Linked DNA regions of Homo sapiens: all the other regions are linked to region 1. The links come from fine-mapping of genetic effects on gene expression. A gene starts in region 1. Each other region holds a variant in brackets. All regions are shown on one strand. Distances are from middle to middle. Region 1 holds the start of SEMA3C (semaphorin 3C). Region 2 has its middle 220 kb from the start of SEMA3C. Region 3 has its middle 23 kb from the start of SEMA3C. Region 4 overlaps SEMA3C (semaphorin 3C).

Evidence for each region. PIP is the estimated chance that this variant, and not a neighbour inherited with it, causes the effect.
Region 2: its variant is fine-mapped to the expression of SEMA3C in whole blood (TOPMed, PIP above 0.99).
Region 3: its variant is fine-mapped to the expression of SEMA3C in blood mononuclear cells (TOPMed, PIP above 0.99). The same link has a PIP of 0.9 or more in T cells, monocytes, monocytes after Pam3CSK4, monocytes after R848 and whole blood.
Region 4: its variant is fine-mapped to the expression of SEMA3C in nucleus accumbens (GTEx, PIP above 0.99). The same link has a PIP of 0.9 or more in caudate and putamen.

What each region holds. Positions count from the first base shown.
Region 1 is chr7:80,915,637-80,923,532 of GRCh38, reverse strand. SEMA3C (semaphorin 3C) reads left to right here and starts at 4,482. Exons shown (of 18, transcript NM_006379.5): 1 at 4,482-4,705; 2 at 6,714-6,854. The coding sequence starts at 6,752. RefSeq lists a silencer at 4,216-4,345 and an enhancer at 4,893-4,962.
Region 2 is chr7:81,136,291-81,144,186 of GRCh38, reverse strand. No RefSeq gene overlaps it. Among named protein-coding and RNA genes, the nearest start is that of SEMA3C, 220 kb to the right of the region's middle. The variant C/T (reference allele first, on the strand shown) is at 3,346.
Region 3 is chr7:80,938,412-80,946,307 of GRCh38, reverse strand. No RefSeq gene overlaps it. Among named protein-coding and RNA genes, the nearest start is that of SEMA3C, 23 kb to the right of the region's middle. The variant C/G (reference allele first, on the strand shown) is at 4,753.
Region 4 is chr7:80,835,196-80,843,091 of GRCh38, reverse strand. The region is part of intron 2 of SEMA3C (semaphorin 3C); the gene reads left to right. Among named protein-coding and RNA genes, the nearest start is that of SEMA3C, 80 kb to the left of the region's middle. The variant G/A (reference allele first, on the strand shown) is at 4,221.

The DNA of each region.
Region 1 (7,896 bases):
AACCATTTAAAGTCCAAGAAGAGGATAACAATAGTAAAATCTGAAGATTACATGGAAAGGCCCTTGCCCATTTCGAAGGGCTGTAGATGGGAGTCAATTAGCCGTAACTAACAGTCCTGCATTCATTGCTCCAGCTGGTTATTATTTTTGAGCCTCATTACATGCGTCTGACAATCAGAGGCACTTATGCAGGCCTCTTATGGCTCTCCTGTGAGAACAGATATGGGAAGTGGTTTTGGTCTTCCAGGTGTAGAGACAGAGAGCTTCAGATCCAATATGATTCATAAAAGCTGCTGGCTTTCCTCAAGACGTGACTGTGGATGGGTGTGCATATACTCCACTAGCAAACATTAACTGTGGGATTCTCTGCAACTGCAGTTGTATATAATCTCAAATACATATACTCTGTCCTCACTGAGGCTTCACATGAAATATTCCAAGAAGGCAAAACAAATAGAAAGTTTACATTTTGTCCTTGTGATGAAAATGTGAATGATCATAATAACTCTATTACAACCTTTGTCATGCACACATGACATTTTTGTACTAAGGAAGTAAATTCACTAAGGGATTCTTACTACTGAAATTCTTTACTATTCTACTTTTACATGAAATATTGTAATATATAAACATTAGAGGCAATATGCTTTTATTTTGGTTGAGTTGCGAAATATTGCGCTTAACATACTTGATATGTTTAAAGGTGTTTAAGGAAATACTGAGGACTTAAACTTTGAACTTTGTAATAGCTTATACACTCACCTCGTTTAAAATTATAAATGTAAAACAGAGTGAACCATGAAACCTTTCTAGCCAATTTTCCTCTCCAGAGCAAACCACTGTTGCCAGTTTATTTTGTTTAATGTCAAGAACCCTACAATTTGAGAAGCATAGAGTGGTACATATCAACAGAGAAAAAACAGTCAGCAATACAGATTAGCAATAGATTAAGAATGAAAATAGAGATACACTCATCTTATTGAAAAATTAGAAATGATTTGATAGAGGAAATATTAAAGCCTATTTGCTGTGCAGGTAGCAGTTTCACACACAGATTTCTAGACCAGACCTGTTTGACCGGCTTGGTCTCAGAGCTGCTAATGTAACCCAAGGAGACGTAAGGCTGATGTAAATAAAGTAAGTAACCATTGGAAGTTGAGACTTTCCAAAGATACAGTTCAGGAAACTTAAAAGGATGGCATATGGAAGTTGAGTGAAGGAGAAAGAGAGGGAAGTAGAAAAGAGGAGAAAAATGTTAAGCAAAAAAGGTAAGAGGAAGTATTGAAACTTATTGAAAAACCTGAGACATTACGGCAATCACGCTTGAGTTTCTCTTCCTATTCTGATATTTACTACCCATTTGACTTTGGGCAAACCTTCAACGTTCTCTCATTGAAAATTGTAACTTCATTAAAGAATGCTATGCAGATAATAAGCAAAGTACCTCGCAAATACACAATCTATTTTCTATTACAAATATCAGTTTTTATGACTAAATAATAAGACAATTTTTAACCTCTGAATGATTAATATTCTCTGGTTAGGGTAAAGTTTATTTACATGACTCATCTGTATAATAGGGAAAAATCTGTTTTCTTTAAATTTGAAATAAGATAATGTATAGCTGCAGAAACTCCTGGAGAAAAGTATGTAACTCAACATCGGTGCTAGAGTTTTAAGTTAAATAGCATTCCTCAGGACCATCAAAAACATAAAATATTAAAAATATGCCCACTACACCTTGGCAGGCAGAGACACTTCAGTGTGTAAGATACTGCACCATTTCTAAAACGTCTTAATAAAAGTTATCCTAAGTATTTTAGTTTGGCCGCTCGTCTGAAACGTTTTGCTGGGTGCAAACATTGTAATTAGTGCTCTCTAAATTTAGTTGTGCCACTACTCCTGTAGATCCATTTAGTGTCCCCCTTACCGAAAACAGCGTTCTCAATTAGCTGTTGTTTTCCACTTGTAAGGACAGTCAAAGCTGAAGTCTTAAAAAAGTGGTAGTGCCCAGAAATGTTTCTTAGGCAAGTCTTGTTTTGTCAAGGTGTTTTAAGCAGTGTGGGGAAATGTGGGCAGAGATTAATCTTAGGGGCTTCTAGTGCCACTGTTAAAATTCCACTCTGTGGCCTAAGTCTCTGGCAAGCATGAGCACTGTGTCCTTGCGCTTGAATCTATCTTGGCTAAAGCCTATCAGTATTTTTATGATTCATTTTGAGGTGTGGCCAACTGTAAACGTCTCAGAGCTAAGCAAATACCATTAAATCCCAGGAGCACATTGAAAAGAGGTTTATTTGAGCAATATTGAGGGAATTTCGGCACAAATTTCATGGGCTGTGATTAAATCTAAGCTATTTGTCAAGGCCTCCAAACCCCTGAATGTGTAACAGATTGAGCTAATTCATTGGTGTTTGTAAATTGAGTTTGGAATTAAGCTCCTTTGTAAATACACCGTTTGAGATGCATTTCATCTTGCAACTCTTTATCGTGGTTTTCTCAAACTTAAAATGTATAAACGAATTCCATCTTACGTGAATTTGCTGATCAATTTCTAACAGCTCCACATTTCTAAATTAATTTAATCCACACACTCATCTTTCTAATGATTTATTCTTCTCCCTGCTTAATATATAAATGCCGAATGAGATATCAGAAGGAGGATAATAGTGGAGAGTATATAACCTGGATCTTACTCAGTTTCAGAAGTATTTCAGAGAAGCACGCACAGTGCTTATTCACATTGACATCTGGATTTTAATATTGTCAGTTTTTGGGGGGTTAAATTCCTTATTACAAATTTATGTCAAGGATCTTCTCACGCATCATCACAAAAAATAATTTTAACTGTTGTTACTATATTAATTTTTTGACGTTTGGAGATAATATTAGCCCTGGAATAGTATTTTTGAACTCATAAATTTGCATTATTTGACTTGATCCTTCGTTCCTTGACTATGCAGCGTGAGTCTGAGACACGTGTATGTTTACTGAACACAAGAGGTGGGCCCCAGACACATGAAAGATGTGTCTCACTCACCTCTTCCTCCTACCTGAGATTTCATTCAACTTTCCCACTGAACAATGATTTTGCACCCCCAGAGGGGTTTTCTATGATACAGTTTATAAGAATTTAATGATTGTTTCATTATGTGAATTGTCAGGTATAAGGTGGAGATATTACACTCCACGTTCCTTCTGTAGAGTGACATCTGCTGGGCTGTGCCCCACAGTGATTTTAAGCAAGTGCCTGCTTGTTTTATGGGGATCAAAGCTCATTTCTCCCGATGTTTAAACATCTAGTTTATTGTGGTCCGGAGAAGTAATTTTCACTTAAACATCAAAGTCAGTTCCAGAGTTTAACGAGTGTACCTGAAAGTAATGCTGGAAAAATACCTCTGATGTATTTCTGTAGATGTGTGGTTATGGCAATCTGTTGGCATAACTCAGAACAGCCTCTCCACATAGAATTGTCAAATAATTTCTTCGTGTAATTATGTTTGGGAGTATGGTTGGGGACAACGTACTGGATATGAGTCAACGTGGAGGGGTCAACAGAATTACTGCTTTCAGGGCATTAAGGAAACTCAATAGGAAACAATACCCATTAAAAGGATACACTTGTGCAACAAGATTGTCGTTTATCTTGACCTGTTTTAGAAAACACGCAACAGAGGCCCGGCGCGGTGGCTCTCGGCACTTTGGGCGGCTGAGGCGGGCGGACCATTAGGTCAAGAGATCCAGACCATCCTGGCCCTGTCTCTACTAAAAATACAAAAATTAGCTGGGCGTGGTGGTGGGAGCCTGTAGTCCCAGCTATTCAGGAGGCTGAGGCAGGAGAATCGCTTGAACCCGGGAGGCGGAGGTTGCAGTGAGCCATGATCACACCACTGCACTGCACTCCAGCCTGGCGACAGAGTGAGATTCCCTCTCCAAAAACAAAACAAAAAACAAAAAACAAAAAACAAAAAAAAAACGCAGCAGAATAAGGACAAAACTCACGTCCTTTTAAAAACGCATCTCTTTGCCTTAAAAGGCTGCAGTGATCCTTCCCTGGCAAAAATAAAAAACCACAACTGCTTTGCACTTTGATATTTACGGCCAGGCAAAGCCTGTGTAAGTCTTCGAGAGCCGCCGGCAACAAAAACCGTGGAGCGCACCCAGCAAGTTGCTCACTCCGCCGCGGACTGCGAAAGGAGCAGGGTTGCGGAGCTAGGGCTCCAGCCTGCGGCCGCGCATTCTTGCGTCTGGCCAGCCGCGAGCTCTAAGGGTCGGCCCCGCCCGGTCCGCCCCCGCGGCTCCCTGCCAGGCTCTCGCGGGCGCGCTCGGGGTGGGGCCTCGCGGCTGGCGGAGATGCGGCCGGGGCTGCGCGGTGGTGATGCGAGCCTGCAGGGCGGCGCGCCGGGGCAGCCGGAGCCGCGCGCCGCGGCGCTGTAATCGGACACCAAGAGCGCTCGCCCCCGGCCTCCGGCCACTTTCCATTCACTCCGAGGTGCTTGATTGAGCGACGCGGAGAAGAGCTCCGGGTGCCGCGGCACTGCAGCGCTGAGATTCCTTTACAAAGAAACTCAGAGGACCGGGAAGAAAGAATTTCACCTTTGCGACGTGCTAGAAAATAAGGTCGTCTGGGAAAAGGACTGGAGACACAAGCGCATCCAACCCCGGTAGCAAACTGATGACTTTTCCGTGCTGATTTCTTTCAACCTCGGTAAGCTAAATTGGTCATTTTCCGCATTACAGATTTAGCAAAGTATAACTTTTTTGGCCTGTATATTGATTTTTCATACATTGGTATGCTCAAGCCTGGACATTTTCTTAAGAACACACGCGGTTTGTCAGGGAAGCTTTCCCCTTGCTGAGAGCCCTGCTCGAGTTGTTTCTTTAGGCGGTGACACCTGCGGAGAGTTTCAAGTTGAGTATTACAGTGCCTTCAAAGGCAAAATTGCTCCAGAGGAGATAAGAGAATTCTTTTCTTAATGTGTTGTTAGTTTGCGATCAGCAGAAGTGAAAACACCAAGAGGAACGTCTGTGTCTGAGTTAAAGGGAAGAAGTTGTAAGATACTGTTGGGGAGGCGGGGGTGTATTTAAGACACTTGGCTTTCAGTCTTTCACTCCTCATCACTAGGTGGGATGTAAATCAAATTGCCCTGTAGACTATCTTCGTTTCACCTGCCATTGTATCACCAGTATTCTTTGCAATTGGTTGTATATGTACTTTTGGGAGAAACATATAAGGTAAGATACCAATATGTAAAAAAAATGTGTAAATAATATCAACTTGCTCAGTAAACATAACAAAGGTTAGGCATATTAATAGTTTTTTTCTTTTGGCTTTAACTATGAAGTCAACAGAACCAAGGGGTAAATTACTGAGGGAAAGTCACCCATAAAATCAGTTTCTTTCTAAGTTAATTTAGGGATGACAGGGTGAAGAGGTTGTGGAAGCAGGAAGAAACTGTTTCTTTTGAAAATTACCAACACAAACATCTCTAGAGTTTCCTCCATCTGTGTGGTAAAAGAAGCGTACAATTTCATTTCTAACTCTCATAACATATGCACCACCTAGGAAATCTACTTACAATTTTTGTTTAAAATTGCATATTCCATTTAATTCTTTTTATTCTGTATTAATGAAGCTGTCTTTTTCAGTTGTTAGTGGTTCTTACAAAGAATTTAATAATTTTGACTATGAAATTTTAATTTGAAAAGCCAAATAATGAAGATCAGCATTGTTGTAACCTGTAAAAATAAATTTCTTTACTGGACTCTTGGGTCACTTTATTGTGTAATTATGGTAGAAGCAAAATGATTGTGTTTCTTTAATGGTCCTGAGTTTATTTTACATGATGTAGCCACTAGAGCTCCTGTAGGTTTATGGTAACACATTATCTGGTCTTCCTTGGGATTCAGATATTAGTTAATAGCATGTACCAATTTTATATCTATAGTTTGAAGCAGTGACACCTGTCTCTTTGATTTATCTTTGGGAATTTTGACAGCCCACATTCTGGTTGATTTATTTAAAATATGCATTGGTGGATACATGGCTCACTGGATTGCTCACCACTAGGTCATTGGTTTGAATTTGGCACTAGTCCATGGTTACTTCAACTGCATCATTTAACAACTGCCTGTTGGTCATCTGGATAAAATGGCAGATAACTGATTCCAGTGACTTCAGTGATCCAGGATTGAGCACACATAGATTTATGTAAGGAAACACCACTTCCAGAGACAATTACTCCAAAAGAGCTAATGACTATTGAAGTGAGTAGGTACACATGAATGCTCATGTGAGATTTTGCTGCTGCTGTTACGTTAGTGGGGGGAAAGAGTTCTCATCCAGTAATATTCTTTTAGCTCAATTCTATTCAAGTCTTTTTAATGTAATGGATTTCTAGAGAGAAGATCCGTTAAAATATTGGGCTTTCCTTTGGGTATCAGTGTTTTTCTTCACTGCTTTGTTCTGTTTTGATGGTAGCATCAATTTGCTGGAAGATGAAAGTTTCTCTTGTTGCAAAGACTTCCAGACACAAATGAATCAAATCCACATTTTCACATCTGAGAAGCAAAGACACAGCACCTCCTACTGTTTGCATTACTGTAAAAGTTCAGATGGTTCTTTTGTGAATAGGGTGTTTTGTCTAGATTGCTGTTTTTTCCTACTCCTAAAATGTGAAATGAGATATAACAAACATGTTGTCTCTCTCTTAAAGGTATTTTCCCTTGGATATTAACTTGCATATCTGAAGAAATGGCATTCCGGACAATTTGCGTGTTGGTTGGAGTATTTATTTGTTCTATCTGTGTGAAAGGATCTTCCCAGCCCCAAGCAAGAGTTTATTTAACATTTGATGGTAAGAGAGTTGATAAACACTCTGGGAAAAATGTTATTTTAAGTTTTGTTATCTTCCTTATCCAGATTCAGAAATTAAGAGTATAAATATTACTGGATATTAATTTTAAAAATATTTACTGGGCTGCGTTTTGGAGGACAATAGCTATTTTAAATGATTGGTTAATAGACAAAGATCCTCTGTTGGATTTGAGGTATTTATGAAAATGCTTATAATATATGCTGCTTTTTGTAAAATAATTCTTCTGTGCTTGCCTGTGTACTCACAGAGGAGATGGGCACGAGCTCAAAGCCTAGCATCTTTGATCTTACTGTTCACCTGGTAATGTTAAGAAATTGCCCCTTTGTGCTAATCCTCAGCAGCAGAGAGAGCTATGCAGGTTCAATTACTAAAAAATTCTCCCAATTAATTTTTTGGGCATTAGTCTCAAAACTGGTTACTCCGTGTGTTGTTCTAATGGTGTTTCTTCTTTTTCCACAAGGATTTCCTGAGATTGGCATAGTCCCCTAATTAATTGAAAAGGACCTAAAAGAATAATTGGAAATATGCTTTTGATGGTTGTTGTATACAAATGTTCTCAGAAGCTTAGGGAAATGGGTGTGATTTCAGATTTTCACATACATAAAAGGTGCAAGGTCTTCTGAGGGAATGGTTTGCATGAGCTTTAATGTATATAGTTCAAAGGACTTACAGATGAATGAATTTGGTTAGTCAAGTAACCCATACTAATTGGACAGATGGAGCAAGACATGGATGAGGAACACCATCCTGCCAATCAAGGTCATTTATAATTTTATTACTTCTTTCAACTCTGCATAAACTTTAGTGTCATTGCAAGTACTTTTTCTTTCATTTGATAAACAATATATTCTCAGACCTTTCTATAGCAGAGTGTCTCTGAAACTTTGTCTCAAATTCCTTTTTTTTTTTTTTTTTTTGAGACAGTGTCTCACGCTGTCACCAGGTTGGAGTGCAGTGACACGATCTCGGCTCACTGCAGTCTCCACCTCCCAGGTTCAAGCCATTCTCCTTCCTCAGCCTA
Region 2 (7,896 bases), 220 kb before region 1:
GCATGTTGTGATCTAAGTCTTTGGTAACTGCAGCCATTATCTGCTTTAGGGGGTAACCCAAGCCCAGTAACACTGTGGTTCTTGCAGACGCACAGAAGTACTGCTTTGGTGGTCTTGGCTAAGATCCAGGAGAATTCCCTGAATTACCAGGCAGAGACTCTTGTTCTCTTCCCTTATTTTCCCCCAAACAGTCTCTCTCCATGTGCTGAGCAGCCTGGAACTGGGGGATGGGTGACACAATCATGCCCATGGCCATCACCACTGGAACTTCACTGGCTCAGACTTGAAGCCAACACAGCACTGGTTTCTCCCAAGGCCTGCAGTGACCACTGCCTGCCTACCACCTATGTTTCCTTGCATCCCAAGAGCTCTACAATCAGCAAGTGGCAAATCCAGCCAGACTTGCGTCCTTCCTTTCAGGGCAATGAGTTCCCGTTGGCCCCAGGTGCATCCAGAGATGCATCTGGGAACCAGGGCCTGGAGTCAGAAGCCTTAGGAATCTGCCTGGTGCTTTATTCTACTGTGGCTAAGCTGGCACCCAAGCTGCAACACAAAGTCTTCCTCACTCCTCCCTCCCATTTCCTCAAGCAGAGGAGTCTCCTTCCAGTAACCACCAGCATCCCAGGCCCACAGCAGGTACTGCCTGGACACTGCTGATCTACACTCAAGGCTCAAGGGCTCTTCAGTAAGCTCATGGTCAATGTTGCCAGTTCTGAGTTTTGCTCTTCAAGGCAGTGGACTCCCTCCTGGCCCAGAGGATGTCCAGAAATGCCATCCAGGATCCAAAGCCTAGAATCAGGGACCTCAGGAGTCTGCTTGGTGCTCTACCCCACTGTGGCCATGCTGGTACCCAAGCTGCAAGACAATGTTCCCTTTTCTCTTCCCTCTTCTTTCCTCAAGCAAAAGGGAGTCTCTCTCCATAGCCACCACAGCTGGGAATGTGGCAGGTCTCACCTGAAGCCAGTATACCTCTGAGTCTCACCCAAGGCCCACGGCAAGTAGAACCTGAGTACCCCTGCTGATTATTCAGGGCCCAAGGGCTTTTTAGTCAGCAGTTGATTAACTCTGCCAGGACTAGCTCCTTCCCTTCAAGGCAGCAGTTTCCTTTCTTACCCACAGTGTGTTTAGAAATGTTGTCCAGTAGCTAGGGCCTGGAATAGAGGCCTTAGGAATCTGTCTGGTGCCCTATTGTGTCCGGAATTGGTGGGTTCTTGGTCTCACTGACTTCAAGAATGAAGCTGCGGACCCTCGCGGTGAGTGTTACAGTTCTTAAAGGCGGCGTGTCCGGAGTTTGTTCCTTCTGATGTTCGGATGTGTTCGGAGTTTCTTCCTTCTGGTGGGTTCCTGGTCTTGCTGGCTCAGGAGCGAAGCTGCAGACCTTCGCCGTGAATGTTACAGCTCTTAAGGTGGTGCATCTGGAGTTGTTCGTTCCTCCCAGTGGGTTCGTGGTCTCGCTGGCTTCAGGAGTGAAGCTGCAGACCTTCATGGTGAGTGTTACAGCTCATAAAGGCAGTGTGGACCCAAAGAGTGAGCAGTAGCAAGATTTATTGCAAACAGTGAAAGAACAAAGCTTTCACAGTGTGGAAGGGGACCCCAGCGGGTTGCCACTGCTGGCTCGGGCAGCCTGCTTTTATTCTCTTATCTGGCCTCACCCACATCCTGCTGATTGGTCCATTTTACAGAGAGCGGAGTGGTCTGTTTTGAAAGGGTACTGATTGGTGTGTTTATAATCCTTGAACTAGATGCAAAGGTTCTCCACCTCCCCACTAGATTAGCTAGATACAGAGTGTGGACACAAAGGTTCTCCAAGTCCCCACCAGAGTAGCTAGATACAGAGTATCAATTGGTGCATTCACAAACCCTGAACTAGACACAGGTGCTGATTGGTGTGTTTACAAACCTTGAGCTAGATACAGAGTGTCGATTGGTGTATTTACAATCCCTTAGCTAGACAGAAAGGTTCTCCAAGTCCCCACTAGAATCAGGAGCCCAGCTAGCTTCACCCAGTGGATCCCGCACCGGGGCCGCAGGTGGAGCTGCCTGCCAGTCCCGCGCCATGTGCCCGCACTCCTCAGCCCTTGGGTGGTCGTTGGGACTGGGCCCCGTGGAGCAGGGGGCGGCGCTTGTCGGGGAGGCTCCAGCCACACAGGAGCCCACGGAGTGGGGGAGAGGCTCAGGCATGGCGGGCTGCAGGTCCGGAGCCCTGCCCCTCGGGGAGGCAGCTAAGGCCCAGCGAGAAATCGAGTGCAGCGCCGGTGGGCCGGCACTGCTTGGGGACCCAGCACACCCTCCGCAGCCGCTGGCCCGGGTGCTAAGCCCCTCATTGCCCAGGGCCGGCAGAGCCGGCCGGCCGCTCAGAGTGTGGGGCCCGCCGAGCCCACACCCACCCAGAACTCGCGCTGGCCGGCAAGCAGCCCCGGTTCCCGCCCGCTCCTCTCCCTTCACACCTCCCGGCAAGCTGAGGGAGCCGGCTCCGGCCTTGGCCAGCCCAGAAAGGGGCTCCCACAGTGCAGTGGCGGGCTGAAGGGCTCCTCAAGTGCGGCCAGAGTGAGTGCCAAGGCTGTGGAGGCGCTGAGAGCAAGCGAGGGCTGTGTGGCACCTCTCACTATTCTACTGTGGCTGAGCTGGTATCCAAGTTGTAAGACAAAGTCCTCTTTACTCTTCCCCTCTCTATCCTCAAGCAGAGGGAAGGAATCTCTCCCGGAACCGAAACTGTGAGTTGTACTGCCTGGGGTTGGAGGAGGGGTGATGCAAACACACCCTTGGCCCCCATGGCTAGTATCTCAATAGATCATATGCCCCAAGTCCACTAGTTCCGAGCCCAGGACAGCACCAGGACTTGTCTAGAAACTACAGTCCTTGTGGCCTAGACTGTCTTTCAGGTTTATTTAGGACCCCACAGTGCTTTTGCCACCAGTGTTGGGGCTAGTTAGACTCAGGTTTTCACAGCAGGCAAGGACAATTTGCCTCTGGTTAGGGCTGGTATAAATGCTCTCTCCATTGGTGTCAGCCAAGCTCTGCCCCATGTCGTTTGCTGCTGTGACAGAGCAGCACTGAGTTCTAATGAAGGTCCCATAGTCACCACACTGTCTCCTCATCAGGAGCGCAGATTCTCTCTGCACCATGTGGCTGCTGCCAGGGAGTAGGGGAGGGGTGTTGTAGGTGGTTCAAAACTGTCTTTCCTGCCCCCTCCAGTGCTTCTTACTGAGATCACTCACCTGACTTTTGAATGTTATGAAATGTTTTTGTTTTGTTTTGTTTTGTGGATAGTTCCTCAATTTGGTGTTCCTGCATGGGGAGGGGAAGATCACAGGAGGCTTCTGTTAGACCATCTTGCTCCACTTC[C/T]TCCTCACGCACTAGAATTTTCAGTCTATATGAAACACATAACAATTTCACTGGTTAAATAAATATTCATCAATTTGTTCATAACACGAATGCATCTGCTTAACAGGGACTAAAAAAAAAAAAAAAAACAACCAAGATTCTGCTTTTCAAGAATCATAGGACTTGGGGAAAATTTATATGCCTATGCTAGAGAGAACATCCCTGAAGTAATATAAACAAGTATCCAAAATGAGCATATATAAATACTAAATGCAATGTAATGGAAGAAACAGTATGGGCTGGGGTCAGTCCAGCTTCCTGGAAGAAATTTGGCCAAATAGCTGTGCAACTCTGGGGGGATAGTTTAACCTTTGTGAATCTCACTGACCTCATCTGTGAATGAGGAGCTTGTTCTCCATAATTTCAGCCTGCATGCAATTCTCATGGTCTATGAAGTCATGTTTCTCAGCTTAACTCCATAGGAGTGGAAGTCGTGTATTGGCAAAGGCAAAGAGTACGCCTTTCTTGAAAGGCAAGCACAAAGTTCACTGGTTAGACATTTGTTCAACAATTTTAACAAGGCTTGTCTCAGAGGATATTTGGGGAAATGAGCTTAAAATTGTATATATGTTGGCTGGCTTGACTAACTAAACAAGTCAGCTAATTTGTAGTCTTCCTATTTACACAATTATGTTAATATAAACTGCCACTTATTAGCATTTTATTATATGCCAGGCATGCTACATTATTTTCTCACTGCACCTTACTACAACTACTGAGACTAGGTATTACATTCATTTTACAGATGAAAAAGATGAGACTCAATGAATTTAACAAGACAAGAAGTGAAGAACTAGGATTTAAGGACAAAACTGACTGGTTCTGATGCATGTTATTTTTCCACCAGGAATAACACGGCTCTCTCTAATATTTAGGCAGCGCTTACTGGGGCACTGCTGAAAGGATTTCACAAGCATTTAATTCATTCCATTCTCAAACGATCCCATGACATATGCATACTTTTTAATCCCTGTTTTATAGATGAGAAATATGAAAAACAGAAAAATTAAGTAACTTGTGGGAAACTACACAGCTACTAAGAAGCAGAGCTAGGATACACTGTGCCATGAATTCTTTCCCATATAACGCTGTGTAAATGCCAGGTGGGTGTATATGACTATTACAGTGTATTAGATGGGGTAGATAACTCATGTTACCATGTCTCAGTTATTTCTTAAATACTGGGCAAAATGAATGAAATGATGCACAGTAAAGGACCTACCCAAATGTTAGGTAAATTGTTTTATCCATCCAGAGTCAAAGGAATATTTGCTTTGCCACGTGTGAAAAATGCCTAATAGATTTTCTTATCAGGGGGCTATCACTGCTAATAAACAGAAAAATTTCATTGGCAATTACTACATAGCTAAGGGTTTTACTTGAATTCAACTTTTAACTGCATTTATCCTCAAGCAGCAAGGGATTTTTTTTGCAGGTAAATTGTATGTTATGTAGACATTATTGTTCCATATGAGATCAAAGAAAATTCTTTCCTATTCATTTTATTATGCCAAAGAGCTGAGGAGGGTCTTGGAATGTTTTTAGATAAGAATTGAATGAGAAAACTTAACAGTTTTTAATCCTATCTTTAGAGAGTTTTTTAAAATAAATTAACCTAAAGTGAAAAGTAGTCATATCCACTAATACTAGAAATATGAACTTTCTCTTGAAAAAAAAAAAAGAGGAAGTATGTATAAGACTGCATTCCTGGAGGACTTTCCTCTTTATTCAAGTCCATAAAACAGAATGATTGCTTCCTTTCCATATCCCAGTATCACATGTCAGAATAATGATGTTCTCTGACATTTATTAGAAACATTACTGTATTTTTACTGTAATGTCTTGGTGGCTAAAAACGATAAAAGTATTTATGAATGTAAGTCCAAGTTCTTCTATTCATTATCAAGTTACCAAGAAATTCCTCAAGTAAAGAAATATATGATTGAAATAACAGAAAATAGAGAAGGAAGGAAGGAGAAGGAAGAGGAGAATTAGGAAGTCAAAATATTATAAATACTCATAAAAAATAATATTTTAGCCAGAAATTCATACCACTAATTGCTTATAAAAGAAGTTCTAGGTCAGAGTTTGGCAAATTGTGTTCTGTAAAGGACCAAATAATAAATATTTTAGTGTTCATGAGCCATAAGATCTCTCTTGCAACTATTCAAAATCTGCTATTTCTGGTGACAGGATGGCCATAAACTACTTGTAAACAAATGGATATAGCTGTGATCCCATAATATTTTGTTTAAAAAAACTGGTGGAGGGCCAATTTGACTCTCAGGTCCTCTCTAAATCATAATGCTGAGATGATATCCTAGTGCTTTTTGATAGAATTTTCCACTTTGAATGAAATGTTCTATATCTGTGCTGTTCAACATGGTAGCCACTAGTCACATGTGGCTACTGAGCATTTGAGATATGGCTAGTGAGAGTGAAGAATTGAGTTTGACATTTTATTTGATTTTAATCATTTTATATTTAAGTAGGCATATGTGAGTAGTGGCTACATATTGGACTGCATACTATATTTCTTTGCTTCTTATATTTTAACCTGAGAGTATAATTACAGAATTTCTTTTTATTGCTAATTAACAAAAAGAAGTTTTTTATACATTGAGTTTTCCAAAGTGCAAAACTTTAAAAGATACAAAAATTTACACTATGTATCAAAAAATTAAAAGACCATTTAACCTATTTTATAGTATATAATATCCATATACACAAACAAAAAAATACAGCACATATCTGTCTTTACACTTTAAAGCCTCCCTAGCTTTAAGATGAAATTGTGGCAAAAGCTACAGATGTGAGAAAAATATGGTTAAAACAAATAAAACATTTAATTTTGCTCATTCTATATATTTTACTATTAATGAACTAAACAAATACCTCGAATGTAATTCCAGATAGAAATTTCCAAAAGGTATGTGGCATCATTACATATAGCAAAGCATTGCTCTAAAAGGGTTACAGCATAATTTGATGAAAAGAAACTGAGCTTTGTAATCAAAAGCTTTGAGTTCAAGATTCTGCTTTATTCTTACTACTCAAATGGTATTTTCAAAATATTACTTTATTTCTTGAAGTCACAGTTTCACAGTTTTCCTTGGAGGTAAAATCAAGATATACATATCACCCATTAAAACAAGTTGTGGTGGGGATTGTGGGGTTTAAATAATATGTACACCCTACATATACCATAAACTGCTACACAGATATCTGTTTTCATTATTCTCAAAAAGAGAAAGAATAAATAATACAGTAGCCAGAGTCTTTATGGCCACCTTAAATCATGTGTTGAAATCATAATCCCCAAAGTGATGGTATTAACAGTTTTGGCCCTTGGAAGGTGATCAGGTCATGAGGGTGGAGTCCTCATAAATAGGATTAGTGCCCTTATAAAAGACCTGAGAGAGCTCCCTCACTCTTTCCACCATGATAGGATACAGCGAGAAGGCACTATTCTATGAACCAGGAAATGGGCGCTCGCCAGACACTGACTCTGCAGCACCTAAATCTTGGACTTCCCAGGTTCCAGAACTGTGAGAAATAATTTATCTAATTCATATGCCAATGAGTCACAGTATTTTGTTATAACAGCCTAAATGGACTAGACAGATGCATATCCCACGTGTACTCTGCCTGAAAATGCCTAAAACTAGCTCATCTCTCCTACCCCTCCTAACGAGTGCTCACCTTTTTGACTGGTAACCTAATGCTGCAGTTATCAACCTCAGCATTCACTTCTGAAGAGACAGTCATTATATTAAGTTCCTGGAAAAATGTTTCCACAGTGCTAGAATTTTTGAACTCTCTTATAGTTAACAGCAGAGCAGAGAAAGAAAGAAGGAGAAAGAGCTTATTTAGAGACATAAACAGGCTGGGCGTGGTGGCTCACGCCTGTAATCTCAGCACTTTGGGAGGCTGAGGCGGGCAGATCACAAGGTCAGGAGATCGAGACCATCCTCGCTAACACAGTGAAACCCTGTCTCTACTAAAAATACAAAAAATTAGCCGGGCATGGTGGTGGACACCTGTAGTCCCAGCTGCTGAGGAGGCTGAGGCAGGAAATGGCGTGAACCAGGGAGGTGGAGTTCGCAGTGAGCAGAGATCACACCACTGCACTCCAGCCTGTGTGACAGAGCAAGACTCCATCTCAAAAAAAAAGAAAAAAGAAAAAGAGAGACATAAACAAAAAAATCAATGACAGCCCAAGTGTGTTGCTTAGGAAATGGATTTAAAAAAATAATAAATCTGCTTTATATTTATCGAGCAGGCATCATTGTCATGCAGGGGAAAAGTCAACGTTGTCTTAAGTGGGAGGTTTCTGTTCCAGGACTAAGAAAGCCATTCACTCCATTTCCAACAATGGCTTTCCACTCAAATATTCAAGAGTGATGGGTGCTTCACAGACCTTCTACTCCTCTTCACTTCAGACTAGCCATATCCATATTTGATCTGTGAGAAAGAAGTGGTGAGAGGGAAGAAATGGGAAAAGAGCTTTTC
Region 3 (7,896 bases), 23 kb before region 1:
ATAATTTTTTCTAAACTTTACTTACATTACTTGAATGTGAAAAAAAGACTTGTTGGACCTTCGAAAACTTTTATTGCCAAGAAATTATCCAATCCTTTTGCTTGGATAATTTTCTCTTTGCAAAAGTACTTTGTCTTTTAAAATCTCTAGCTTGCTAACTGTTCCAGCTGGCAAATGACTTCACACTCACTTTCAGTCTGACTAGCTGACACTTCTGCTTTATTAAACTTTTAAATGTCGGAATTCCTCAGGGCTCTCTCCTAGGCCTTCTTCCCTTACCACTCCACATATTTTACCTGGGCTTTATTGTCTTCTCCAATGATTTCATTTACCCTATATATATGGAAGACTCTAAAATAGAAGCCTCAGTACTATAACTGTCATCTGAGCTCCACACTGATAACCACCTGCCCATTTGACAGCTCTACCCAGACATCCCATAGCTACATCACATTTAGTGTCTCTAGAACTGAAAGTATGATATTCTCACGGCCCTCTCCTGTGTTCCATTGGCAGAGAGGGGCTTCAACATCTCCCTAGTTCTCATTTAAATTTGATATCCAATCTAGCATCAAGTCCTGTTAATTTTATGCCAATGTATTTCAAATATTTTCACTTCTCACATGCTAACCGGACTCCTCACATCAGCATTATTCATATCCAAGCTATAATTCTGTAGCCAGAAAATCTAATGAATTCAACGTTTTCAAAATTCTTCCTTGAATGTATTCTACACCATGCAACCATGGGGCATTTGCACAGGTTATACCCTAAACCCCGGGAATTCTCTACCATCCCCTCTTCACCTTAGTAACACCTTCCATCCTCATATCATAAATATCATTTCCCCATAGGAATTTGCCTGACCCCAAAGTTTAGATTATATTTCTCCATTCTATGCTTTTTTCACCCCAAGTCTCAGATTATAATTAAATAATCAACCTATTATTTGTAATTTATGTTATTACATGTTTGTTATTTATTGTTTTTCTTTGTCTTCAGAATGTAAGCTCCATAAAAGATTATATCAATCTGTTGTCACCTCTACCTACTACAATATTTTACACAGAGAACGTCATAAATAAACATTTGTTAAAGAAATAATAAATAGGCCGGGCGCAGTGGCTCATGCCTGTAATCCCAGCACTTTAGGAGGCCAAGGTGGGAGGATCATGAGGTCAGGAGATGGAGACCATCCTGGCTAACACGGTGAAACCCCGTCTCTACTAAAAATACAAAAAATTAGCCGGGCGTGGTGGCGGGCGCCTGTAGTCCCAGCTGCTCGTGAGGCTGAGGCAGGAGAATGGCATGAACCCGGGAGGCGGAGCTTGCAGTGAGCCGAGATTGCGCCACTGCACTCCAGCCTGGGTGACAGAGCGAGACTCCATCTCAAATAAATACATACATACATACATACATACGTACATAAGTACATACCAACATGCTGCTTAATGTGTTACCCCTTCTAACAGAATTTGCTTTATTAGGAGAATGACTCAAGTGGCTTTGTTTTCTTCTAAAATTATATCCATAATCTACATCCTTTAATCGCCTGATGGTTCTGAGTCCTTTTTGAACTCTGCACTAAGTATAATTAATAGCCAGGATATCCCCAGGTGGGTCTGCGACTGTCATCGCATCTCAGCAGACTGAAAAAGTGATGCCCATTTGGTAAGCTGGGGTAGCAGGACATGTTTCTCTTTAATACTCTAGCCAATACTTAACTAGCAGTTGTAAGGTCCTGTAATGCTCTTTCTTAAGTGTCCATTCTGTTTCCTCCTTGATGCCAATTTGCTTAGGGTCCTCAATGACTTTTGCTTACACTTTACATTCAATGTTAACAAAATAAATAAATTATGATTTTTGTCTTCAAAGAGCTCAGAGTTCAGTGGACTATACAAAACAAGTAAAATAAAAATATCTTCATAGTCCCCATTCAGACAAATCCTGCAACTGAGAAAAAGTGGCAGTGCGTGAGAGAAAGTTATACTAGGTAAAGGGAAGAGCAAATGCAAAGACATAGATGCTTGAGAGGGAGCCACGTGTTGAGAACAATGAGTGATTTAGAGCCCATCGAGACTGGATCCCATAATGAGACAGGCAGAGGAAGGGACTGGTTAAGGTCCCATTGGAAAGCCATTTTACCATGGTAAGTTTACCTTTTATCCTCTGTAAAATAGGGAACTGTGCAAGATTTAAATAGGGAAGTGGAATACTCAGATTGTTCAGATTGGTTTTTTTTTTTTGAAAAGAAACATTGTCGGTATTTTGAAGCATGAACTAAATTAAGGATTAAGGATTAATTAACTTTTCTTGAATCTGCAAGCAAATTTGTCCATTACTGTTCTTTTGTTTTGGTCCAGAAGGGACTATTAATAAAATACGGACTAAAAGGAGAGTTGCTTCTGCATTCTCTACATTGACTGCCTCTACCATCTCTTTATTATATTTATTAACTTGTTATTTTTCTAAGATGCCTGTTATTTCAAATTGCCAGCAGCAATTTTCTTTTGGAGGCTATCCTGGGACTAAAAAAGAATATTCGTTCAAAGGATATGATACAGTATTGTAGAACCTAATTAACACATTTCATATATGAATCATTATGTTATTTATTACATCAGCAATTGACCACAGTTAGTAGAGCAAATAGATTTTAACTTTTTCACCAATTTTTGCAACCCATGGCCACCTAGATACATGTCTCAAAAGGAAATCTCTGCAGAAAGTGTTTATCCAACAGCGATGTTTGCCATATGTGAAGATAAGATCTGGTCATGAGTCCAGGAGCATCAACCCAGTGGGTAGCAGGTAAAAGGTTGGAAGGAAGCAGATTCTGTAGCATTGGGACATTGACAGTGGGGAGCACATGGAGTGCTTGGATCAAAGAGACATTTTAGAACAGTAGTGTGGCAACTTGATGAAGATAATTAGATAATAGTGATATGAAGCAGTTTTCTTGAATCTGCAAGAAAATTTGTCCATTACTGTTCTTTTGTTTTGGTCCAGAAAGGGTTATTAATAAATAGGGACTAAAAGAAGAGTTGCTTCTGCGTTCTCTACATTTGACTGCCTCTACCGTCTGTTACTTTTTTTTTTTTTTGAGACAGAGTCTCGCTCTGGCTAATTTTTTATATTTTTTTAGTAGAGACAGGGTTTCACAGCGTTAGCCAGGATGGTCTCGATCTCCTGACCTCGTGATCTGCCCGCCTCGGCCTCTCAAAGTGCTGGGATTACAGGCGTGAGCCACGGCGCCCGGTCAACTTGTTACTTTTTTTTAGATGGTTGTCTTTTTAAATTGCCAGCAGCAATTTTCTTTTGGAGGCTATTCTGGGACAAATAGAAAATACTGGTTGAAAGGAAATGATACAGTATATGTAGAACCTAACTAACGCATTTCATATATGAATCATTATGTTATTTAATCAGCAAATGTTTGCTCAGTAACTATTTGAATCATTTTGTTTAACTATTAGCATCAGCAAAGATTTGTTCACTGACTCTCTATTACCTAGGATATACCCAGTATTCCAAAAGGGAAAAAAGTAGCATAGCCTCTCCTCTTGAAAACTGTATTTTCCATAATTTATTCAAGCAAAATTGACTACTTAGACACTATCCCTTTGAAGTAGCCCTCCCCAAGCTAACCTATGAACCACTATTTGCTCATAGGAAGGAAGTGGTTCTATCTAAGGCTAAGAGCCAAGAATTTTGCATTCCATTCCATTCATTGCTTCTGTTACTGATTTATTAAGTAATATTAAGTAGCAATTCTGCAGACTTTTCTCTTTGGCCTACTGAGCATGGCAATGCACTGGAAATTCCACTAATGTGGGCACAGCTTGGGGCACGACAAAGAAATAGGTGGAGACTAGAAACACATCTCTGACATGTCTTAGGAATGTCCCTAGGGATATTTCATTACTGAGTAGCTGAGCAGAGACATGACTCAGCCAGAGTTCCTGCAACTGGCTGTCTGGGGCAGCTATGAGAATGCTGGCAGGAGTTGCTGACTAGCCAGTGTTTGGTGAAGATGAAAAACAGCCTTTTAGTTAGAACTGAAACTTCTAAATAGCAATCTGATTGTACAAACTGACTTGAGTTGTTTGTTAGTACTAACATATTAAGAGGGGAATAAATTTGCTATCTGTCTGCAATAGCTTTCTCAAATATGTCAATGCATTTGAAGCACCTTGCGAAGAATTATTATTTAATCAGTGGACATTAGAACTCCTATTTTGATGGATTCTTTAGAAAAATACCTTGATTTTTGCAGTTGAAAAGTGAGAAAGGTTCTGTTGACAGAGAACTAAGAAATATGTAAACTTGTTTCTTAAGAAACAAACACTAAATTGAAGATGGAAAAAAGGGGAAAGAAAAGAGATGGAAGGAAGGTGACCAAGGAATAGAGCAGAAGAATGAAAGAGTGGATGAAAATCTATAGAAAAGCAATGCCTAATAAATAGCATTTATATTAGTGGTGCAAATTTTCCCTCCATGTGATAATATATACAGATAGATATATATTTTACATTGGGATTTTGATTATTTAATATTTATTTTTAGATTGTGTTCACTATCTGTGATATAAAGAAATTCAAAAACTTCTTTCCTGGTTATGAAACATTGTGTTACTCATTGCCTTTTTTTCAAAAACAGAAACTGGACAATTAAGGCTAAGTGCAATCACTCTGTTTAAATTTATTGGGCAATAGTTGCATGATCTTCAGTTGTGGAATTTGTGTGTCAAGG[C/G]TCATATGACAATTCCTTTATGGCACTGAAATAAGACTGTACTTGTCTTTGCTTTGTCCTTTCGGCCTGCCCTTGGTGAACTCCTTATTGCAATGAATTCGTATTTCTGAATCTAAAGATGACTAGCTTCTAGCTGCTAAGTTAAATTTAAACCTCCGTGAGGACACCAGCTGTCCCTAAGTGAGATAATTTGCTATTTTCCTCGGGCCAAAAATTCCAGTTTGGGGTAAGACAGGGCCTTGAAATGCACATTCCCTAAGAGGTTACTTTTGATCCAGAGATCTCTTAAAGTGTTAATGAATTTCCACACACATGAGCACCCTGCATTTTTTTCCTTTTGGGTTAAAAACCGAAGAGGTCTATAAGGAGACTGTCTCAGAACTTTGGTTCCCAGAACCATTATTTATATTCAGCTTCAGTGTTCCTTATTTATTAGCTGGGACCTAGCAGAGCAGTTACAGCAACAGAAAACAGCAGATGGCAAATTTCATGGTGGCGATAACACAATAACTGAGAAGTATGTGGTGAGCAATATGGGAGCTCTTCACAAATCCCTTATTATCCTTTTTTGTTATTTCTGTGTGTGGAGGGAGGGATGTTAAATGTTTCGTGTATATTCTCTCTCCTATCCTATAACAATGACACAAGAGTGTATGATGCTATGAAAACAGCTCTCTTGCCTCTAGTTGGGGCAACTCTAAGGTGTGACACACACTCCAGAGCTCCCTGAAAAGTCAGGCTAAAGTTCTTCTCTACAGGATGCATGCCTCTGCACCTGCACTATTGCTTGGCTTACTTCCCTTCTTTCTTCTGCTTTTTCCAACTCCCTAACCTGCATGCCCTAGAGGAATTTCCTTAATAAATTGGTTACACATACATCCTTGGCTCAGGGTCAGCTTGTACTAAACCTACAACAAAGGGAGGGGTGAGTAAAATGAGGAGACAGGGAAAAGATGAATCTCCAAGAGAGATAAAAATGAAAGGTTACTGGAAGGCAGGATGGAGCAAAGAAATCCTTAAAGAAAGGAGGGGAAATAGGGTAAAGGGGGAATCAAGAATTGAGATACTATTGTCTGGCACCATAGTATATGGGACCTTTATTTAGGGGTCCTGAAACATAGTGCTGAAACACAAGGCCCTGACTTCATACTGACTGAGGATAAAATTCCAACTTTTCTACCTCACAAGTGTATAGCCTTAGGCAAAGTAATTTACTCTTTAAGCCTCTGATTTTCCATCTATAAAATGAGTCTGAGATTTTAACCCTTAGAAATACCTTTAAATATGGAAAGAACCTTACACCTAAAGGTATTTATTGCAGCATAATTTAGAGATGTGGTCCCCAACTGGGGGTGATTTTGTTCCCTAATGGACATTTGGCCATATCTAGAGACATTTTTTGTTTTCACAGCTCAGGGATGGGAAGTTACTAGCAGCTAGTGCATAAAGACTAGAAATGTTGGCCGGGCGCGGCGGCTCACGCCTGTAATCCCAGCACTTTGGGAGGCCGAGGTGGGCGGATCACGAGGTCAGGAGATTGGGACCATCCTGGCTAACACGGTGAAACCCCGTCTCTACTAAAAATACAAAAAAAAAAAAATTAGCCTGGCGTGGTGGCGGGTGCCTGTAGTCCCAGCTACTCGGGAGGCTGAGGCAGGAGAATGGCGTGAACCCGGGAGGCGGAGCTTGCAGTGAGCCGAGATCGGCCCACTGCACTCGAGCCTGGGCGACAGTGCGAGACTCTGTCTCGAAAAAAAAAAAAAAAGACTAGAAATGTTGCTATACAACCCACAGTGCACAGAATAGTCTCACACCCCCCTTCAACAACAAAAACGTTTTGGACCAACATGTCAGTAGTGCACAGTTGAGAAACTTTAACGTAGAGTAACAAAAAGTTGAAAGCAAATATTTTAAAAATTTAGAAATAGAGCAAGATTAAATAAATTATAATGCATCCCCTGAACTAAATAATATGCTATAACTGAAAAAATTATTTTTTTTTAAATTGTTGACACCTATGATAAGATGATAACAAAGTAGAAAATGCTGGACAGTCTGTATGTAAATTGTGTAAATCAATTAATTAATTCAAGTCATACTTTTCAAGAGCTAATCCATGCCAGGTATTGGACTAATGGATATTATAGTGGTAAAGGAAACACATTTATGAAATTTGCATTCTAGTAGAGAGAAAGGACAGTAGAAGATAGATAGATAGATAGATAGATAGATAGATAGATAATAGGTAATATAGATAGATGATGAATAAAAAAATGAACAAGAAACAACTCTCTGAAGAACTGATATGTCAGCTGCGATCTCAATTTGTAGAAGGTGTGAATCATGGCAGGATGGAAGGCAGAGCATTCCTAGATAGACTCGTTAGGTTGAAGACTCTAAAGTGAGAACAAGCATGGCAGTTTTGAAGAACAGTAGTGTGAAAAGCCAGAGAAAATTATGGTTAACAATACAAGCTATTGTGGAGAAAGACAGACTTGAATTTGAATCCTCGCTCTGTGGGATATGAAGTGAAATGTTCACTCTTTCAGAAACTTTTTCTTAACATTGTTTCACGGTGTATAATTGGGCATAAGAAAACTTCTCAGGATTATTGTGAAAATGAAATTAGGTAATATATGTAAAGTGCCAAGCATCTTTTACATGATAAGCACTCTATAGTTTGAATTTAATGAAAAAGTCAAGATTAAAAAATATATATGGTATACAAACGGGAATAAAAAAGTCATACAGAGATATATATATGTGTAATATATGTATATTACATAGGTACACACATATACATATGTAATATACATAACATATGTAATATACATAATGTAATTATGTATGTAATTACATATACATAACATATGTAATTTATATGTAATATACATATGCCTATGTAATATACATAACATACACAGTATTAGGGTACAGATGCATTAGATTAGCTAATCATATACATATGCCTATGTAATATACATTACATACACAGTATTAGGGTACAGATGCATTAGATTAGCTAGCCTCCTAGATGCTTCTCATTCTATAATGCCAGGACTTCACAAATTCCTGTACAATGATAAATGACAATAGCTTTTGCTACATGTACTCATTCATATCAGTTCTCTGAACCAATGAAGA
Region 4 (7,896 bases), 80 kb after region 1:
ATCCATTAACCAACTTCTCTTTATCTGCACCCCCACCCACACGCCCCTCCTAACCTCTAATTTCATGTTTTAGGCTAAATTGATTTTTGGACTGGAAATGTACTAACTTGAATTAATTTTACACCTGGATGTGAAAATATAATTTTGTTCTTTTCATATTCATTGTCGATGAAGTAACAAAGCTTGCAGAGTTTTAAAATTAGGGAATACAGTTTATATGTCTCTGATGAAAAGAAACAGAAAGACAGATTCTGCACTAGAACCCTGTTTATTTGCTCTTCTGATTGTATGGCATAATGTGGCTTGTTTGACTTAATCTTGTAAAGTTACTTAAATTGTTTAATGTTCAGTCCCTCAAATAACACCACCCCAGCTATCTATAACTCATTTTGCCTAGTAAAATGTGTTGCTTTTTGAGATTCAGGAATGAAAATGTCTGTAAGTCAGTGAAGTGAAGCTTCCCTCTGCATTAAAAAGGTGACCATGAGCTGTTAATACTTAGGTCAAACTGGATTTCTCATGGTTTCTCATTTCCTCTTTTAAGTGCGCCTTATTTCCACCAAAAGATTTTACTGAAAATTAAAAAGAAAGTCATGGCTAATGTTTGTCTCAATGGGGTAGCAGCATTTTGTAAAATAAATAAACTTTGAGTCTCATATTCTGCTATTCTTCTTGAAGTACATGCAAGAATGATAAATATTATGTTTCCAGAGCAAAAACAGCAAAGTGCAACACTGATCTCTTTTGAAAGCTTGAGTGATGCCATCTCCAAATACCATCACGTGAAATTTGGAAACAAATGGTTTCGCAGTCTAGCACAAAGGAAAGAGAAATGTCTTGGATATACATTGAAAAGCCATTGTGTATATGATAAGTCTTGGGCTTTCAAAGCTGCAGGAAACATGGTTGCATCCTTTGTGCTTCTCTTGAAAAGAATTAAAGGGTGGCTCTATTACTATGTAGAAGCCCACTCCCAAGGACTGTTTAAATCTCTGCTCCAGCCGCTGAGCACTGCAGAGTCACTGACCTTGTATTTTAGACAGTGTCAGAGGGAGAGAGACAAGAAAAAAGGAGAAAAGGGAGCTTCTGCGTAGAATGACTGACAAATGTGTTTAAAGTTAAATGAACATGTCTTCACTGTCCTCTGCAGTTCTGCAGACTTGTTTTTTTGTTTTGAAGCCAAATGTAGTAACTTGGCTAAACAATGAGTCACATTGAAATAAATAATATTTAGATAAAGTAGCTGTCTTTTTAGGAAAACATCTCCCCATCTCTTTGTTCATAAAGTCTGGGCCTTTAAATTTGAGGTTTTATGGTATATAGTTTATAATATTTTTCCTGTGTTCAAAAGAAAATGAGTTTAAGAATGCATCAAGTGAAAGCATAGTTCAAGAATTTTTGCTGGTGGGGAGAGCTGAGTTTTTAAATATCAAATAGTTTGTCTTACTGAAAGCTGTGGGTGGTCCTCCATCATTCTGAAGGAATCTAGAGATGGGGATTTTTTGCCAACATATAGCTGTTTTCCAGTTAGATGCTGATGTTTCTGTCATTGCCTAGTTCAGCATTTTATTAGGTGCAGTGCAGCTAGACTCCTGTATAAGAATATATGTAAATTACAGTGGTCTGCAAGGAAAGTTTGCATAGCCTGATTCTTGATCAAAGGGTAATTACAGTCCTTTTAACTGACAGGGCATTGAAATGAGCCCCCAGGATTATGAGAATATGTATAAGTTGCATTTTTGTCAAGACTTTTTTCTACATTTATTTATTACTATGCAGGCACACAATAGTTTAAGAATACAAAATATTTTTATTCTGCTTTACTCACTTAATATTGTATCATGAAGCAATCTTGCTCTCAAGAACTCTTCATTAAGCAGAATTATCTTTCTAGCAAACTTGTATGTGATCATGGCGGGTACTTGCTCGGATTTGTTTCATTGGCATCTGAAGTGACTTGGGAAAAATTCAACCCCTATGGTTTGACAGTCAAGAAATTTGGATCTTTCTGTGTTGGTTGGCTCCTTGTTTCTGCTGAGAAAACCCCACTCCATTCCGCTTCTTGATCAACCCTGAGACTTCTAATCATCCTTTGAATCTCCCACCTGAGGGTTTCTACGCAAACTTTTTCTACTCCCTGGAAAATGCTTATTTCTTTATTAGCTCAACTTTATCCTTCAGGTCAAAGTTTACATGATTGTTTCCACAGCCATGATGTAAAGCCCTTGTCTTAAACACTTACCCTCCCTTTTACTATACTTTGTGCATTTATTACTGTGATTTTAGTATAATATTGAGTGGCTTAGTTAATATTTATTGAATGGAGAAACAAGATCAAGTACTTCCTTCTGTCTAATATTTTTCTGTTATTTCCAGGAAGACTTAATTCTTCATTCTTTAATGCTCCTCAATTTTTGGAGTCATCTTTTTACACTGCAGTTGCTCGTGTACCTCCACTTTAGACTCTCCTGTTTGAAAGAGAGACCAAATTTTTGCATATTTTTACCTAGCTCCTGGCATTTACCATCGCGCTCTCTCTCTCTCGCTCTTTTTTTTTTTTTTTTTTTTTTTTTCCTGGAGACAGGTGCTCTGTCACCTAGGCTGGAGTGCAGTGGTGCAATCACAGCTCGCTGCAGCTTCTACCTCCCATGCTCAAGTGATCCTCCTACCTCAGTCTCCTGAGTAGCTGGGACTACAGGTGCATGCCACCAAGCCTGCAGATTTTTGTATTTTTTGTAGAGACATGGTCTTGCCATGTTGCCCAGGCTAGTCTCTAATTCCTGGGGTCAAGTGATTCACCCGCTATTGCCTCCCATAATGTTCGGATTACAGGCATGAGCTACCACACCTGGCCTTTTTACCATCTATTGAATGAATGAATAAATATATGTCTCAAAGAATATTTCTGTTTTGTATACAGCCTGCTGTGTTATGTATAAACACAAGCAGTATGTCATAGAGAGCTGTGGGCTGTGTTATGTATAAACACAAGCATTGTGTTATAGAGAGCTATGGGCTGTGTTCAGAACTTTATGAGGGTGAGAGGGACAAGAGACTTCACTAAGCACATAGGATCTCCTATTCTTGCTATAATTAAGTGTGCTGACTAAAAGTACCCACTGGAAGCCCACAATATGGTCAAGGGAGTTTTATTGAAAGCATCCAAATCCAGCAAATAGTATAAATTTTGTGAAAGACTAGTGTTAAATGTTGCTTTAAGACTCTTTCCATATGTGGTTCCAGTGTGGTCACTTAAGGGATGTGCTTGGGGAATGGCGTCTATTAGATTCTCGGTGTTCTGGGGTTTTGCTGACATGATATACCATGTCAGGTCATCATCCTTCCCCAATGCACACACATTGGTCTGAAATATTGACTGTCTTTATATTTCTGTCCCACCATCCAAGGACTTTGCTATAAATGTTTTAAAATATATCCCTACAAGTCTTATTGTTTGTGAATGACCTTTAACACTTGTTTCCATATTGAATATAGCCTGCTTTTATGACTTTAGCACATGAGAAAATGTTTTCCGTATCTTAACATTTTTACACAAAAAAAATTTTTAATGACAGTGTAATAGTTTATTTAGCAGAGGTACACTTATTTACCCTGAGCTCCAGCTGATACCACATTTCTCTTCTGTGCCCACTTTTTTCTCTGTCTGTTGTCAGGTATCTGCTTTTGTTTTGTTAACCATCCTGGAACCACTGTTCTTGAACACCTTGCCTCAAAGTAAAGCTTTTTCAGAAGTGCCAAGAGGTCTAGAAAGCAGGTGTCAGATGAAGTGTTTCCTCCTCTACAAGTTTATCTGCCTTGTTTATATCTCAAGTGGACACTCTGAAACTGAGGCCTTCCTAGAAGTATGAATATCATTGATACTGATAGCTCATCTGTGTTGTCCTTATATAGATTAGTGATAAGTTCAGATTTTATTCTACTTTTTAGAAGTAAGTTACTGCCAGTTCAGTCTCTCATGACATCTGAGATATTCCCTAATTGTGTATTCTTCCTACCCTGAGATAGAATCCAGACAGTACTTACCATACAAGGAACAAAAGATTGGCCATGTCTTCCAAGTGAGCTTAGAGAAAGGGAAGTCAGAGTTTAGAATTCTCTATTTAATTGAATTACACAACACAAGTAAAATATGTTTTTTGTAGGTGATAAGGTGTGGCTCTGTGTCCCCACTGAAATCTCATCTCAGTTGTAATCATCAC[G/A]TGTCAAGGGAGAGAACTGGTGGGAGGTAATTGGATCATGGGGGCGGTTTTGCTCATGCTATTCTCAGTGAGGGGGTTCTCAGGAAAGCTGATGGTTTTAAGTGTTGCACTTTCTTGCTCTTTCTCTTTCTCTTGCCACCATGTAAGAGGAGCTTTGCTTTCCCTTTGCCATTCACCATGATTGTAAGTTTCCTGAGGCCTCCACAGCCATGTGAAACTGTGAGACAATTAAACCTCTTGTATATGAATTGCCCAGTCCCAAGTACTATCTTTGTAGCAGTGTGAAAATGGACTAATATAGTAGGGGAACAAGATAGCCTTGCTTTTGGTTTAGCTTCATTTTTCTAGAAAATACACAGTTGTATTACTGTGGCTATGTTTCTAAGATTGGTTTTTACATAGACCCCTTTTTCCTACAAGATGTATAGTAATATGAAGGATTACATTAGCTTTACAGATATCCCACAACAATAGATAATATGTGTAAGCAGTGAAAAAGGAATTATTTTTATAGACATTTTGTTGCTATACAGAACATTAGAGATTATTCTGGTTCCAAAATATTCTCATTCTTTTTTTATATTGTAGATGCAGGACCTAAGGGGAGTGCTCTGGAGGGTGGTGTTGGGGTAAACCCTGTACCAGCAAAAGGTGAAACTAAAAATTTAACCTTGGTCTACTATTTCCAAAGCCAAGCCTTTTGCCTTCCCCAGCCATACACACCCTACTTTTTAATAGTGATAAAGTATTAATATTTCATGTAAACCATGATTTTCTGAAATTTGATGGCATTTTTTCCATTTGATTGGTTTATGCTCATATTTTTAATTCACCATGATTAAAAATAATAAAAATCAATATAGCAAACAAAAAAATGGTAGAATGTGAATGAACAAAGACCTGTGTTTCATGTTTAGAGTCAATTTCCACTTGAAAACTGTACAGAAACAAGGTAGGTTTCAGCAAGTCATAGTGTAGTCCCCTACCCCACAATCCAGGACATTGTAGACCATTTCAGATGACCTTCCAGGCAGCCTTCAAGAGAAAAGAAAACCAAGGAGGGAAAGGAGCAAATTTATCAGCGAACCTGAGACCTGACTTTGTCTAAAGGATCGAGAAAGCTTTTATGAGACAGCCCTGTTTAAATTACATCAAAACTATTGGTCACATTATAAGTAGGAATTAGAAAAAGGCAGGAAGAATTTTATAAGCAAGAGGAACAACATGTACAAAGGTCCTGAGGCCAAAAAGGAGCAAGGCAAGTTTGAAGTTTTAAAAAGAAGGCCAGCAGAGCAAGAACAAAGAATAGGCCAACAGTGATGATTAAGATTTGTGGTAAGGTAATCTGGAACTAGATCATAGGAGGCCTGGAGGGCCATGTTAACCCTTTCCTGTTTGCCCCAATAATCCTTGCAGCTGCAGCATTTACCCCAAGGTAACTTTGCCACAAAATATCTCGCTTTCATTATTATTTTCGCATCACTCTAGTATATCGACTTAGGAAACAAAAGACTTATTCTATTTATAGTATTCTGTTTTTAGTAGTGGTATTTCAATTCACAAAATACGGTAATTCTCGATTCCTGAAAATGTCAAATCCCAGAAAACTTAGCATTCCTATGTGTTAACATCTTCTTGAACAGTTGTTGGCCAAAGATTGATTTGATTAATCCGACGTTTGTGAAATAGATGATTCTGAAGATTCAGATGATTCTGATGCTAGTTCTGTGTAGAAATAACTGCAAGAACAGTTTTATATTTTATTTCATAGTGAAAATCAGTCAGACTTGCTTCAGCCCCAAACAGTGCGTTTATGAAAAATTAAAGGAGCACTGACAGCATGCTCCACTTTTTGTTCTAAATGGGAAAGGGTTAAAATTTTGAAATTTTTACTAAAACTAATAGAAAACCATTCAAGGTAATTAAGAGGTTGCTTAAAAGTAGAGCAGCCATATAATTTAACTTCCAAAACATGAATCTTTTGAGAATGAAAGAGGGCACTAGTGATAATTATGCTGGGGAAATGGGCACAATCTGGGGCTGTCTGGGGCAAACCAGGGCGAGAATCATTGTTTCAAGACACCTGTGCATTTGCAAATCTTCCCTCTGATGCAATGCGTGGGAGATACATTCTGTGTTCACTGCTGTCTGTCTGTTTTTGTTTGTTTGTTTGTTTGTTTGTTTGTTTGTTTTTGAGATGGAGTCTCCCTCTGTTGCTCAGCTTGGAATGCAGTGGCATGATCTCTGCTCTCTGCAATCTCCGCCTCACAGGTTCAAGCAATTCTCCTGCCTCAGCCTCCCGAGTAGCTGGGATTACAGATGCCTGCCACCATGCCCGGCTAATTTTTGTATTTTTGGTAGAGATGGGGTTTCACCATGTTGGCCAGGCTTGTCTCAAACTCCTGACCTCAGGTGATCCACCTGTCTCAGCCTCCCAAAGTGCTGGGATTACAGGCGTGAGCCACCGCGCCCAGCACTGCTGTCATTCTTTAGCTGGGTTCCCTGCGTATAGTTGTTTCCTCATTCCTTCTTTAATCCATTTGGCATTTTGCTTCCATTTATCCCATCATGCCTGTCAAAAAGCAAAGAAAAGGGGAACCTTCTGTCTTCTACATGAAGCTGTGTCTGTGCCCTTGATGAAGCTATGTCTGATACCATTTTCATGCTGCCTCTCACACCTTTTTTAATGCTTTAGTGAGAAGAGCATCACTGAGATGTTGATAGTTCTCGAGTTGTTTAGAGTATGGTATCTACTCGTCCCCGACTGGCAAAGAAAATTTGGGAAGCTGAGGCATTTCTTATACTACATTTGATACTATGCAGACCCATGTCCAGAGCAAGAACATGAAAGAAACCCAACTAGTAACTGTCGAAGTTGTCAGTCTGATTAGAAAAGCAAGAGGTCATCTGATTGAGTTCACAGATTAAGGACTGGCTTTGCTTTGAATCCTGAAATCTTGCCTCTTTTAGTCTTTACTGTGTGATCTTGGGTAGATTGCTCAAATTTGCTCAATTTTAATTCCTTTGTGTGTGGGACTAGAGTAATATTAGAACCGAATGCAAAGACTTTGAATGGAAATTGTGTGAACTAAGTTTATAAAGCACCTAGAACACTTGCTGCTACTGGTAAGCCCACAAGTGGCTGCTATTTGGGGCTATTATTTTTGAGCAAATATGGTTTTAATAACATGCCCTCTGGTCTCTATTGTCTTTGTTCACATTAGGAATTAGTAGCTGTAGTTTCAGTCCGCTGAAGTTTCACTGCTCTTTATTTTTTTTTCTAAACAGACAGGTGAAATTCACTTTCTAATCCAGTTTCAAAACAATAAGCCTCAGGGAGAGGATGGGTCACTTGAGCCCACTCTGCTTAAAATTCTTCTGAGATAAGACATTCAAAAGAGGAAATTATCCTGTCAGTAGCAATATCTCTGAAGTAAAAGATATCCTACAGATTTACTTTGAAATCTGTAGATGTGCATTCTGCCTGAGATCTGAGGTTTATGATGAGAAGAATGTTTTGATGGACTAGCCAAACAGAATAACAGAATGTTAGGTAAGCAGTGAAATAGTAATTAGGACATGGTATCTTCGTTATTTCTATCCTCTTATTTCAGCAAAGTGTCTAGCCTGCTGGGATAAGGGCTCAATAAATGTATATTGAACAAATTAATAACAC